Regions from separate parts of the Homo sapiens genome. Here region 1 is linked to region 2. The links come from fine-mapping of genetic effects on gene expression. Tissue or cell type: whole blood. Region 2 holds a variant in brackets; the other region holds the start of a gene. All regions are shown on one strand. Distances are between the middles of the regions.

The links. PIP is the estimated chance that this variant, and not a neighbour inherited with it, causes the effect.
Region 1: it holds the start of GPR107, and the variant in region 2 is fine-mapped to the expression of GPR107 in whole blood (INTERVAL, PIP 0.97).

The regions. Positions count from the first base shown.
Region 1 is chr9:130,050,843-130,056,218 of GRCh38, forward strand. It overlaps GPR107 (G protein-coupled receptor 107), which reads left to right and starts at 3,064. Exons shown (of 18, transcript NM_020960.5): 1 at 3,064-3,231. The coding sequence starts at 3,091. It also overlaps a transcript of FNBP1 not described here. RefSeq lists a silencer at 3,052-3,361.
Region 2 is chr9:130,133,411-130,138,786 of GRCh38, forward strand. It overlaps GPR107 (G protein-coupled receptor 107), which reads left to right. Exons shown (of 18, transcript NM_020960.5): 18 at 1,615-5,376. The coding sequence ends at 1,711. Among named protein-coding and RNA genes, the nearest start is that of GPRACR, 8.1 kb to the right of the region's middle. The variant G/A (reference allele first, on the strand shown) is at 2,504.

The DNA.
Region 1 (5,376 bases), 83 kb before region 2:
TTGAGACAGAGTCTTGCTCTGTCGCACAGGCTGGAGTGAATTGGTGCAATCATGCTCGCTAATTTTTTTTTTTTTTGAGACAGAATCTCGCTCTGTCACACAGGCTGGAGTGCAATGGTACAATCTGGGCTCACTGTAACCTCCGCTTCCCAAGTTCAAGCGATTCTCCTGTCTCAGCCTCCTGAGTAGCTGGGATTACAGGCATGCGCCACCATGCCTGGCTAATTTTTGTATTTTTAGTAGAGATGGGGTTTTGCCATGTTAGCTAGGCTGGTCTCAGACTCCTGGCCTCAGGTGATCCACTGACCTCAGCCTCCCAAAGTGCTGAGATTACAGGCCTGAGCCACCGCCCCTGGCCTAATTTTTGTATTTTTTGTAGAGAAGGTGTTTCACCATGTTGCCCAGGCTGGTGGCAAACTCCTGGGCTCAAGTTATCCACCAGCCTTGGCCTCCCAAAGTGCTGGGATTACAGGCATGAGACACCAGCCAGGCCTATCAAGTCTTTTGATAAGAAAAACAAATGGCAATTATACTTTCTTAAACTGGAGACTATTAACACATTAATTACTTAAAAGAGTTCTGAAAATGTCCAAACCGATATCAAATAATTATTTAATAATAATAGCACTAGATTCAACACTACACATTCTAGTAGCAACCTTAAGCTGATCCTGAAAAGTTAGAGAAAATAGTCCAGGCAGGGTGGCTTACGCCTGTAATCCAGCAATTTGGTAAGCCGAGGTGAGCAGATCACTTGAGGCCAGGAGTTCAAGACCAGCCTGGCCAACATGGTGAAACCCCATCTCTAGCAAAAATACAAAAATTAGCTGAGCATACTGGCGCACACCTGTGGTCCCAGCTAGGGAGGCTGAGGCATGAGAATCCCTTGAACCTGGGAGGTGGAGACTACAGTGAACAGATGTCACACCACTGCACTCAGTCCTGGGCAACAGTGTCTCTGTCTCAAAAAAAAAAGGAGAGAAAATAGAAAAATAAAATGTACTTGACTAAGAGAGTAAGGCTAAAAGCCAAGCTTAGGAGATCAGTCTTTCCAGCCCCTGCAGGCTTTTTCAGTCAATACCTTAAAGTGTAATGTCCCTTTGAAAATGTTGCCAGGAGAAGCAGGCATAACTTGTTCTGTTACTCAGCCTGTTTGTTTCCAGTTACAGCATCATGATTATGCAAATAATCTTTTCTTGAAACTATGAAATCACATGGCTAAATGTAATTGTCAAGGCAGCAGTTTTCTAGAATTTAAGAAGTAACTGTAGAGAAAATGCTCAACAATGTCTTTGTAGTCAGTTTTCCCTCATTCTTATTCCTCTCAATTCCAAAATAATGACTGGCACAATACAGCTTTCAAATATGTGAAAGAAGAAGATATCCTCTTAAACCCCTGGACAGACAGCACTGGTATGACCCTATGTAGGTCACATGATAATACCCAAGTATAGAGAAGCAAGGAATGCTATGAACCCAGTTTTAAGCCCTTATAAAACTGTTGTCCAGAAACTAAGACAAAAGTCTCCTATTTAAAACTATTTTAATGTTTCATCACTATTGTATTATAAAATGGGATTAAGATTCTTACCTGATTTTTTTTTTATTGAGACAGAGTCTCACTCTGTCACCCAGGCTGGAGTGCAGTGGCATGATCTTGGCTTACTGAAACCTCTGCCTCCCAGGTTCAAGTGCTTCTCCTGCCTCAGCCTCCCCAGTAGCTGGGACTACAGGCGCGCGGCCGTGATGCCCCGCTAATTTTTGTATTTTTAGTAGAGACGAGGTTTTGCCATGTTGCCCAGGCTGGTCCCGAACAACTGACTTTCAAGTGATCCGCCCGCCTCGGCGTTCCAAAGTGCTGGGATTCAGGCGCGAATCACCACCCTGCCAGGCCTCATTTCGTTTTTAGTACAGTATTATATTCAAATTTAAAACCAGAGATTTTCAAAGATGCCACTTAACTTTAAAAGATAAAAAGTACTCCAAAGCAGGTTGGGCGCAGTGACTCACGCCTGTAATCCCAGCACTTTGGGAGGCCGAGGCGGGAGGATAACTTGAGGTCAGGAGTTCGAGACCAGCCTGGCCAACATGGGAGAAACCCCGTGTCTACTAAAAATACAAAAATTAGCCGGGCGTGGTGGCGCAGGCCTGTAATTCTAGTTACTCCAGAGGCTGAGGCAGGAGAATCGCTTGAACCCAGAAGGCGGAGGTTGCAGTGAGCTGAGATCGTGCCATTGCACTCCAGCCTGGGTGACAAGAGCTAGACTCCGTCTCAAAAAAAAGAAGTTCCTATAATTTCTGAAAGAAGCAAAGAAAGTTTCCATACAGAATTAAGAGAAAAATGTTAAGACCCAGACTTGGGGTTGGATGAAATAGCATGAGGCAACAGAACACAGGAGTTAAGAGCTTCCGTGTGATTCCCAGCTCAACCTGGAGCAAATGACTTATTTCTCAGAGCCTCAGTTTGCTTACCTGTAAAGTAGGAATAATGATAATACGTACCTCCTAGCTCATCAAATTGTTCCAAAAATTAAATACAACAAAAGGCCTAACAAATTGCCTCATAAGGGCTCAATCAATCGTATTATTGCAACCATTTCGCTTGTATTTGAGTGTGAAGCGCCTAGAAAACCACAGGACCCCTACGGCGAGCCGGGAATTTTTAGATATTTTCCTCCGAGTCAACGCTCAGTGAAATCAGTTCAATCAGTGGCCCGACACCGTGCGGCTGACACAGCTTATCCCCCGACCCTGAGATCAGGGGTCCCCGGAGCCCAAGGTCGCTTCCAAAGCTCAGCGAGGCGGAGGTGCGGCCCGGGCTGGTCTGGTTCGGCCACCGTTGTTATGGCAACCGCCAATAGGTTGGCTTCATCTCTAACTGAAAGTCTGCACAGGAGCGGCCGATCGAAGGGCCCCGAGGTGGGCAGCACAGGCTCCTCGACGACTTCCTAGGTCGCAATCTCCAGGAAAACGACCACAGGGTCAGCGGAGCTAGCCGCCGAGCCCCGCTCCCCGGGCCCTTCCGGCGGCTGCGCCCTTTCACCCCGGACGTGGGCGGGAGAGGAAGCGGCTGGTGATGCTGGAACAAACATGGCCGCTCTGGCGCCCGTCGGCTCCCCCGCCTCCCGCGGTCCTAGGCTGGCCGCGGGCCTCCGGCTGCTCCCAATGCTGGGTTTGCTGCAGTTGCTGGCCGAGCCTGGCCTGGGCCGCGTCCATCACCTGGCACTCAAGGTAAAGCTTGGCAAGGCCGGGCCGGGGGGCGGAGGCCGAGGCCACTCCCCGGGTTTTAGGGCAACTTTGGCCCATTGGGGACCTCTGAGCCACTGGACCACCTCTTTGCCCCTGGCTGCGGCCTTTCACTGACAGGTGGCGGGGTCTGTGGGGAAGGCGGGTCTGGGCGGCGCTGGGGTCTTCGGGCTGACCGGCACGGGGCGGGAAGACTCGAGCTGAGGGAGGGGAAGGGGCTGAACTGTGGCGTTGCCCCCACGGACTCGGGAGGCTGCTCTTAAATCCCTGCTGGCTTCCCTGAATTCCTCACTCAGGGCAGCCCGATCGCCTTTCTTCTTTCTCCCCTCCAGCTTTTATGCTGGCTTTCCTTGTCCGCGGTCTCCGCTCTTCTGTGCCCTTGTACTGTACCGGCGGTTTGAAGGTACTTGGAACCTTAGCCTCAGTTTCCCATTTCGGTTTAGGGCGCTCTCTGGAGCGAGACTCTAGAGAAGGAATTTCAAATCTTGCTTAAAACACGTGACTGAGAATGTAAAGCCAGCATTAAGGTGTGTCTCTAATCAAAGGGCCTGCTTTTTCTTCCTCTATCCAGCCATTGTCTAGGGAAGAGAGATTTTTGATAAACCTAGAATGATACTCTGGATCTTGCTTTGTAACTAGCAGAGAAAAGACCTCTAAGGCTGAAACGCACCCTAAGGTGGTTCAGCAGTTTACTATATCTGGGAAATTGTCCAGGTGCTGTGGCTCATGCCTGTAATCCCAACACTGGGAGGCCTATGCAGGAGGATTGTTTGAGCCCAGGAGTTCGAGACCAGCCTAGTCAACGTGCTAAGGACCCCCTCCCCAAACCTGTCTCTACAAAAAATTAAAAATTAACCAGGTGTGGTGGCAAACGCCTGCAGCTTCTGGGGAGGCTGAGGCTGGAGGATCACTTGAGCCTAGGAGGTTGAGACTGCAGTGAGCCGTGATTACTCATTGCATTCCAGCCTGAGGAACAGAGCAAGACCCTTTCTCAAAACATATAAACAAAATTAGAGACATAGAAAAGTAAATTGTTATGACCCAAACTCTTGTACATTATTTTCATACCATACAGTCTTCTAAGAAGTGGAACTGTAGGCGGGGCGCGGTGGCTCACGCCTGTAATCCTAGCACTTTGGGAGGCCGAGGCAGGCAGATCACGAGGTGAGGAGATCGAGACCATCCTGGCTAGCACGGTGAAACCCTATCTCTACTAAAAATAAAAAAAAAATTAGCCAGGCGTGGTGGCAGGCGCCTGCAGTCCCAGCTACTCGGGAGGCTAAGGCAGGAGAATGGCGTGAACCTGGGAGGCGCTTGTAGTCCCAGCTACTCGGGAGACTGAGGCAGGAGAATGGCGTGAACCCGGGAGGCGGAGCTTGCAGTGAGCCAAGATCCCGCCACTGCACTCCAGCCTGGGCAACAGCGCGAGACTCCGTCTCAAAAAAAAAAAAAAAAAGAAGTGGAACTGTAGAAAGTTTGTCTTGTAAAAACACATTGTTTTAGCAAACTATGAAGCATTGTATTTTGTTAATGTAGAATTTAAAGAATACAGAATGAAATTAAAAGCCTGGCTTGACTGGGCACGGTGGCTCACACCTATAATCCTAGCACTTTGGGAGGCCGAGGTGGGCGGATCACCTGAGGTCAGGAGTTCGAGACCAGCCTGGCCAACATGGCAAAACCCCTCTCTACTAAAAATACAAATATTAGACGGGCATGGTGGCACATGCCTGTAGTCCCAGCTACTTGGGAGGCTGAGACAGGATAATTGCTTGAACCCGGGAGGCTGAGATTGCAGTGAGCAGAGATCATTGTGCCACTGCACTCCAGTCGGGGCGAAAGAACTATACTCTGTCTCAAATAAATAAATAAATAAATAAATAAATGCAAGCCTGACTGGATCCATACAACCTTACTTTTTGGTAACAACTTTTGTTGTTTGTAGGTAAAAATTATCCTGATTAAAATGGTTCAATCACAGGGGTGGGGGTGGGGCAAGTGAATTTTGACTCTTTGAGAATCTGTTGAGAGCTATAGAACCTCTCTCCAGAAAAGTGCATGTAGAAATGTAGACAAAACTTGGCCGGGCACGGTGGCTCACGCCTGTAATCCCAGCACTTTCAGAGGCTG
Region 2 (5,376 bases):
GTGTGATTACTGGAGTGTTTCTGGAAGACGTGGGGTCGCATTTCTTTGTGGTCTCAGTCACTGTGGAGAGGCACGGGGGCTGCTACGTGGCTCGGGGCAGGGGCTTCTCTGGCTCATGCAAAGGCCCTACCTCCTGCATCCCCGTCTAGAGAAGGTCCCTTCAGGAGCAGCCCTGTGCACATGGATCCCTCCTGGGGCAAGTGTCTTCCTAAAGAGGCCAGGCCTGAGACACAAGCCAGCTGGCCAGAAGTGACGCTGGGCGGCTTCAGCTGAGGCATTTTCGTCTTAGGGGATGCTTTTAGAGTCACTTATAGCATCTATGGGATCTGGCCACATACCTTGTCCCAACTTTGCCATAAGTACAAATAACCTGTGAGTCTAAAGGACTCGTTTGAGAAAGGTTCCGGCTTGGGGGATTCTTTGAGCCTGGGCATGGTAGCACCATAATGGCAAGAATGAAGAGATGAAGAAGAGGGGGAAGTTTTCTTCCCTTACCCCATACAAACATTTACTTACCATGAGGTCCAGCTGCATGCACTCTAGATGGGTCACATATACGGCCACTGTGTTGCCATTTGTAGGGGAAGGGGTTAGGTAGTTGGCAGAGGGATGGGTTGGGTCCTTGGAAAGAGCCTGTTGAGTTGATTGATTGAATTTATTTTACTGATGAGGAAATTTCTTTTGGTCCACCATGGGGGAGCATAAATCCTCATTGTTTCCTCGCTTGCAGGGAAGATGCTGGGCCAAGCGGCTTTTGACACCCAGTATCTCTGCCTAGTTCTGCTACTCACAGAGCCACCCAGTTCCCTCATAGACCAGCTCACCTTCTGTGAGGCAAGAGATTATCCTCTTGAGAAGGTGGGGCCCGTGCATGTGATTCCTTCTAATGGAAAGGGCTGCCTTGCTCAGCTCCTCATGCCCTGCGAGACCAGCGATCTTCCATTTTTAATCCTTGATTTCAACGAATGGCTCCATGGGGCCTCCTCAGAGCCAGGCACCAACAGACAGAGCCCCGGGAGCTCACAGAGTGGAGGCAGAGGCCATGCGCTGAGGCACAGCCACATGGCCCAGCCCCAGCTAGCAGAAAGCAGCCAGTTCTCTGTCTATAGTGGCCAAAGAATCTTTGATCCTGGAAGGTTCCTCTAAACCTGTGGTTCTGTCCCCTGGCTCAGAAATGATCCATTGTGGCTGCTTATTAAAAATGTCTGGTTGGCTAATTAGCTTTCTTTTCTGAATGTCCATTAAGAGTCAGATTTCAGTCTCATAAGCGTAACTATCACATATCTGTGCGCCACAAAAATTCCGCAAGCTGTGACAAAAAGATTCATGATGATTGTGATAACGATAGCTGGTGTTTATTGATTAGGCACTCTGGAGAATCTCATTTTTCCTCATGACAGTTCTGGAAAGTGAGAATTACTTAAGCACAGAGAGTTCAAGTGACTTGGCCAAGGTTACACAGCTAGTAAGGAACGAACCAGGAATCACACTTAGATTTTGTCTGTTTCAAAAACCAACACCCATCATCAGTCCTAATCACCGTGCTGTGGCAGAGATGGCCTTTTACTAAGAGACTGTGAGATGTTCCTAATTGTTTTTTCTTTCCTTGTTCAGTGTGACAACATCTGGGGTGATGGAAAGTATGAAGAAAGTCAAGAAGGTGACCAACGGCTCCGTGGAGCCCCAGGGCGAGTGGGAAGGCGCCGTGTGACAGAGCCGACCCTGAGGATGGCACTGTCCAAGGAAACTGTTAACTTATTCATAGTCCTATTGGACAGCAGGAGCAGCTCCTACAGTGAACTATTGGCACCACCGACAGTGACACCAGGGCACATGGCTGGAGCACAGTGCCGCGGAAACCTGATTTTGTACTCTCTTTTATGGAAACGATCTGTGGCTGTTTAGAGGCAGCTGGATCCTCTTTCAGGCGGGAATGGGAGGGCGGGCACAGGGAGGAGGAGAGGAAGAGAAAAGGAAGAATTCATTTTTAATTTAGGTTTCTTTTTTTCTTCTTCATTTCGGAGCTCTAAGGTGTATGCAGTTGTGACCCCATGTGTGGGGAAGTGTAGCAAGGACGGCTGGTGGAGGGGGAAGGAGGGTGCGAGGTGTCTGTCTGATGCTTTAGGAAATGTCTACTGAGGACCCTGGGACTTAAGAAGAAGGGCGGGGAGAGTGCCATTGCCTGTTTGGGAGACAAAAATGAACGAAAACAGGTGACTTTGGAAAGCAAAGTCAAAACCCAGTTTAGGATGTAGCACCTGCCCCAGGATTCCTGCCCTCGGCTTTGCCCCAGACCCTTATTCCAGATGCTGAGAGTGACCAGGACAGCAGCTCCTGAGGCCCAGTGGTCTTCTTTCCAACAGGAAAAGAAGGCTGTGATGTCGCTGTCAGGATCATGCCCTGTGGCACAGCACAGGTGGTGGGAGGTGGTTTTCTGACTGAGATGTTGCCTGATGGATGGAAAGAAATGTATTTTTAAGTTCAAAAAGCATTATCCTGTGGC[G/A]TTGCCTGGACATCCACTCCCTGACAGCCCAGAGCAGCACTGTCTGGCTTCCCTTCATGCTTGTGGCTTTGTTGTGTTTGATCAGAATTTTGGGGGAAATGGAAAGTTTTCCTCAAGGAGCAGCTGGGGGCAGAATAGGTAGTATTTAAGCAAATACTTAAGTCCAAGCAAATCATCCCCATTAAAAAGCTTTTCCTGTAGGCTAGTAGGATTTCTAAATAGATGAATTCAACAGACTTGGTCCCCATAGTCCAAGAGTATGTATGTGAAGAAAGTGAGCATGATTCAACAGTTTCACTCTCAGGGATTTTAGGATGGCAAAATACTTCACAGAAACTCAATGATTAAGTTCCCTTCCACACTTCCAGAGCTTGAATGAACACAGGTAGCCACCTAAATTGAGCAGTATTGCAACTCAGAGAGAAAATCATCTGAATAGTAGGACAAGCTCAGAAGGTACATTGTGACTGAGGGCTTAAAAGGAGACCAAAACATGGCCCCATCAGGGAAGCTTCTTAATGCTTGGGGGGCCAGCTAGGTAGGGTTGCTTCCAAAAGCTGGAGCCCACCCCTGCCTAGGGGTTGTCAGAGAGCCACACCTGCAGGGGAACAGGTACCTCCGAGGGTGAGAGTCGTGGTCTCTGGGAGTTGTTTTCTCACCTCTGGCTTAGAAGGGTCAGGCAGAAACCACAGGATGTGGGGTCACACTCACTGTCCCAAGTTTGGGAACCTGAAAAAGTCTCCATTCAGAACATGGTTGTTCTCCCTGTCCCATGCTATCTTATCTTCCTAAATGACTAATGAGGAAGCGGGTGTTCTTTTTCTGCACTTTGATTCGCCATCTGGGTTCTGTAGGGTGCTCTGAAGGTGTGATCTGCCTTCTGGCTGATGTGGAGGAAGAGCAAGCGCCTTCCCAGGCCACAGCTGCTCACCTCTCGGCAGATATTTTAGGCAAGCATCCGTGTGTCTTCCCATCTTCAGGAGAAAGGTAAATGCACCCTAAGTGTTCACTTCTGGACCTTTTTCAAGTTCACTTGGGACTGTGTGACAGAAGGGAGTTGGAGGGAGGATGGGAATATTTTTAACACTTTGTTTTCCTGTGCAGAAACATAATACCAGTTTTCGCAGAAATGTGTCTCAATCTGTGACTACCAAAGCCCTCCTCAGTCCTTCCCTCAGAGGGACACATTTGCTGTTTCTCCCGCAAGCAGATGTTGTGGATGAGGCGATAGACTCCTTGGCAAGAACGAAAGGTGTGATGAAACCTCCCTGCTCGGAAGGGTCTCCGTGGAGGTGTCCTCATTTCACATGCTGGGTTTTGCAAGCGAGGAAGCCAGGCAGTGGAGGAACTAGAGAGAGGCAGGCGTGTGTGTGGACAAGCGCTGGAGCCGCAGCCCTCAGACTGGCACGGGAACGCCAGCGTTGGGTGTTCAGATTCCACGCGTATGTCTGGGCTCACTCACAGCATGGCCGAGTGTCTGCAGTGCTGGTCCTGACCCTTCCAGAGCAGCAGTGGACAGATGAGATAAGACTGTTTCAGAAACAAAGATGGCCACAGCCTTCCTAACAAGCAGGTCATCTGGCCATGTCTGTATTGTAACTGGTAAAAGGCTTCAAGTCAGATTGATGATCAAGAAAAGTCAAAACCCCAGCCCAAGATTGGGAAAGCAGGTGGTGGTTCCAAGCTTTTAAAAAATTATTGAAGCTCTCCATCCTGTTCTGTGAGTGTGTCTTCTCTTTCTCCTTCACGTCATAGCCGTGACCCACCGTTCATCTCTGCTCTTGCGTAAAGATGACCGATGGAGTCCAAAGCCAAGTGGCTTCACCAGCTGACAAGCCACCCTCCTGCAGCCTGAGTTTCACAGTCCACTGGGTTCGTTGTCATGCGGTGTTTGAATGGTTAAGCCCTTGCAGTATTTCAGATCGGGCAAAAAATATCGGATGCACATAGCAGAACCATTGGTGGTATTTATAGCTTTGCTTTGTACTCCTCACTGTTTCTGCCTACGCAAAATATCCATGTTTCCTCTGAGAAATCTGTTGTGGACTGAAAGCGCTGCTGGCTGTGAAATTTAATAAAGTGTGTATGCTTTGCTAGAAAATTATTTCTTGGACAATAGGAACAGTCATTGATCTGTAAATCCTGGCTCTTAACAGTGAGTGGCCAAGGACTTGATCAGCCCATTTCTTGGTCCCTCAGTGCTTTAAAATTTAAGTAGCACTGCATTTTGTAATGTTGAATATGACTCTAGTGACTTGTAGGAGGCACTTGTGAGGAGATGCTTGCTTCAGTGTAAAAGATGCTCATGGCCTGAGTCAGTTGAGTTTTCTTTCAAGAAACCACTTCAGAGTGAAATATCCAGGGTTTCCCCGCCCTGGACATGTCCAGCCTGCCCAGGCAGCACACAGCCCTGTAAGTCCACCTCGTGTGGGTGAGATTTCCTCCTGCGTGATGACCTCATCGCCATCTCTGCTGTCTCATTCCACAGCCTCCCTCCCTCTTCTCTCCTCCTCTGCCCTCGCCCTTCCCCCTTCCCCATCCCCTCCCCCTCCTCCTCTGCCCTCGCCCTTACCCCTCCCCCTTCCCCTTCCGCTCCTCCTCCCTCCTCCACCTCTTTCTCCTCCTCCTTCCCTCCTCCTCCCTCCTCTTCCCTTCTCTGCCATCTTTCTCCCCGTGCCTATTGATCCCACATAGGCTCATTCTGGGTACACCGGCTAAAGGCTTTGGTGCATTGCAGCGTTTTCTCCCAGCAGCTGTGTGAAAGATGCATTTTCTAAGCTAAGGAGAATTTTCTCAAGAGTGGCATACTCATGCCAAATATTATTGCTCTGGGCCATATAGGCTGGTCTTCCTCCACACTAAAATGGGTGTCT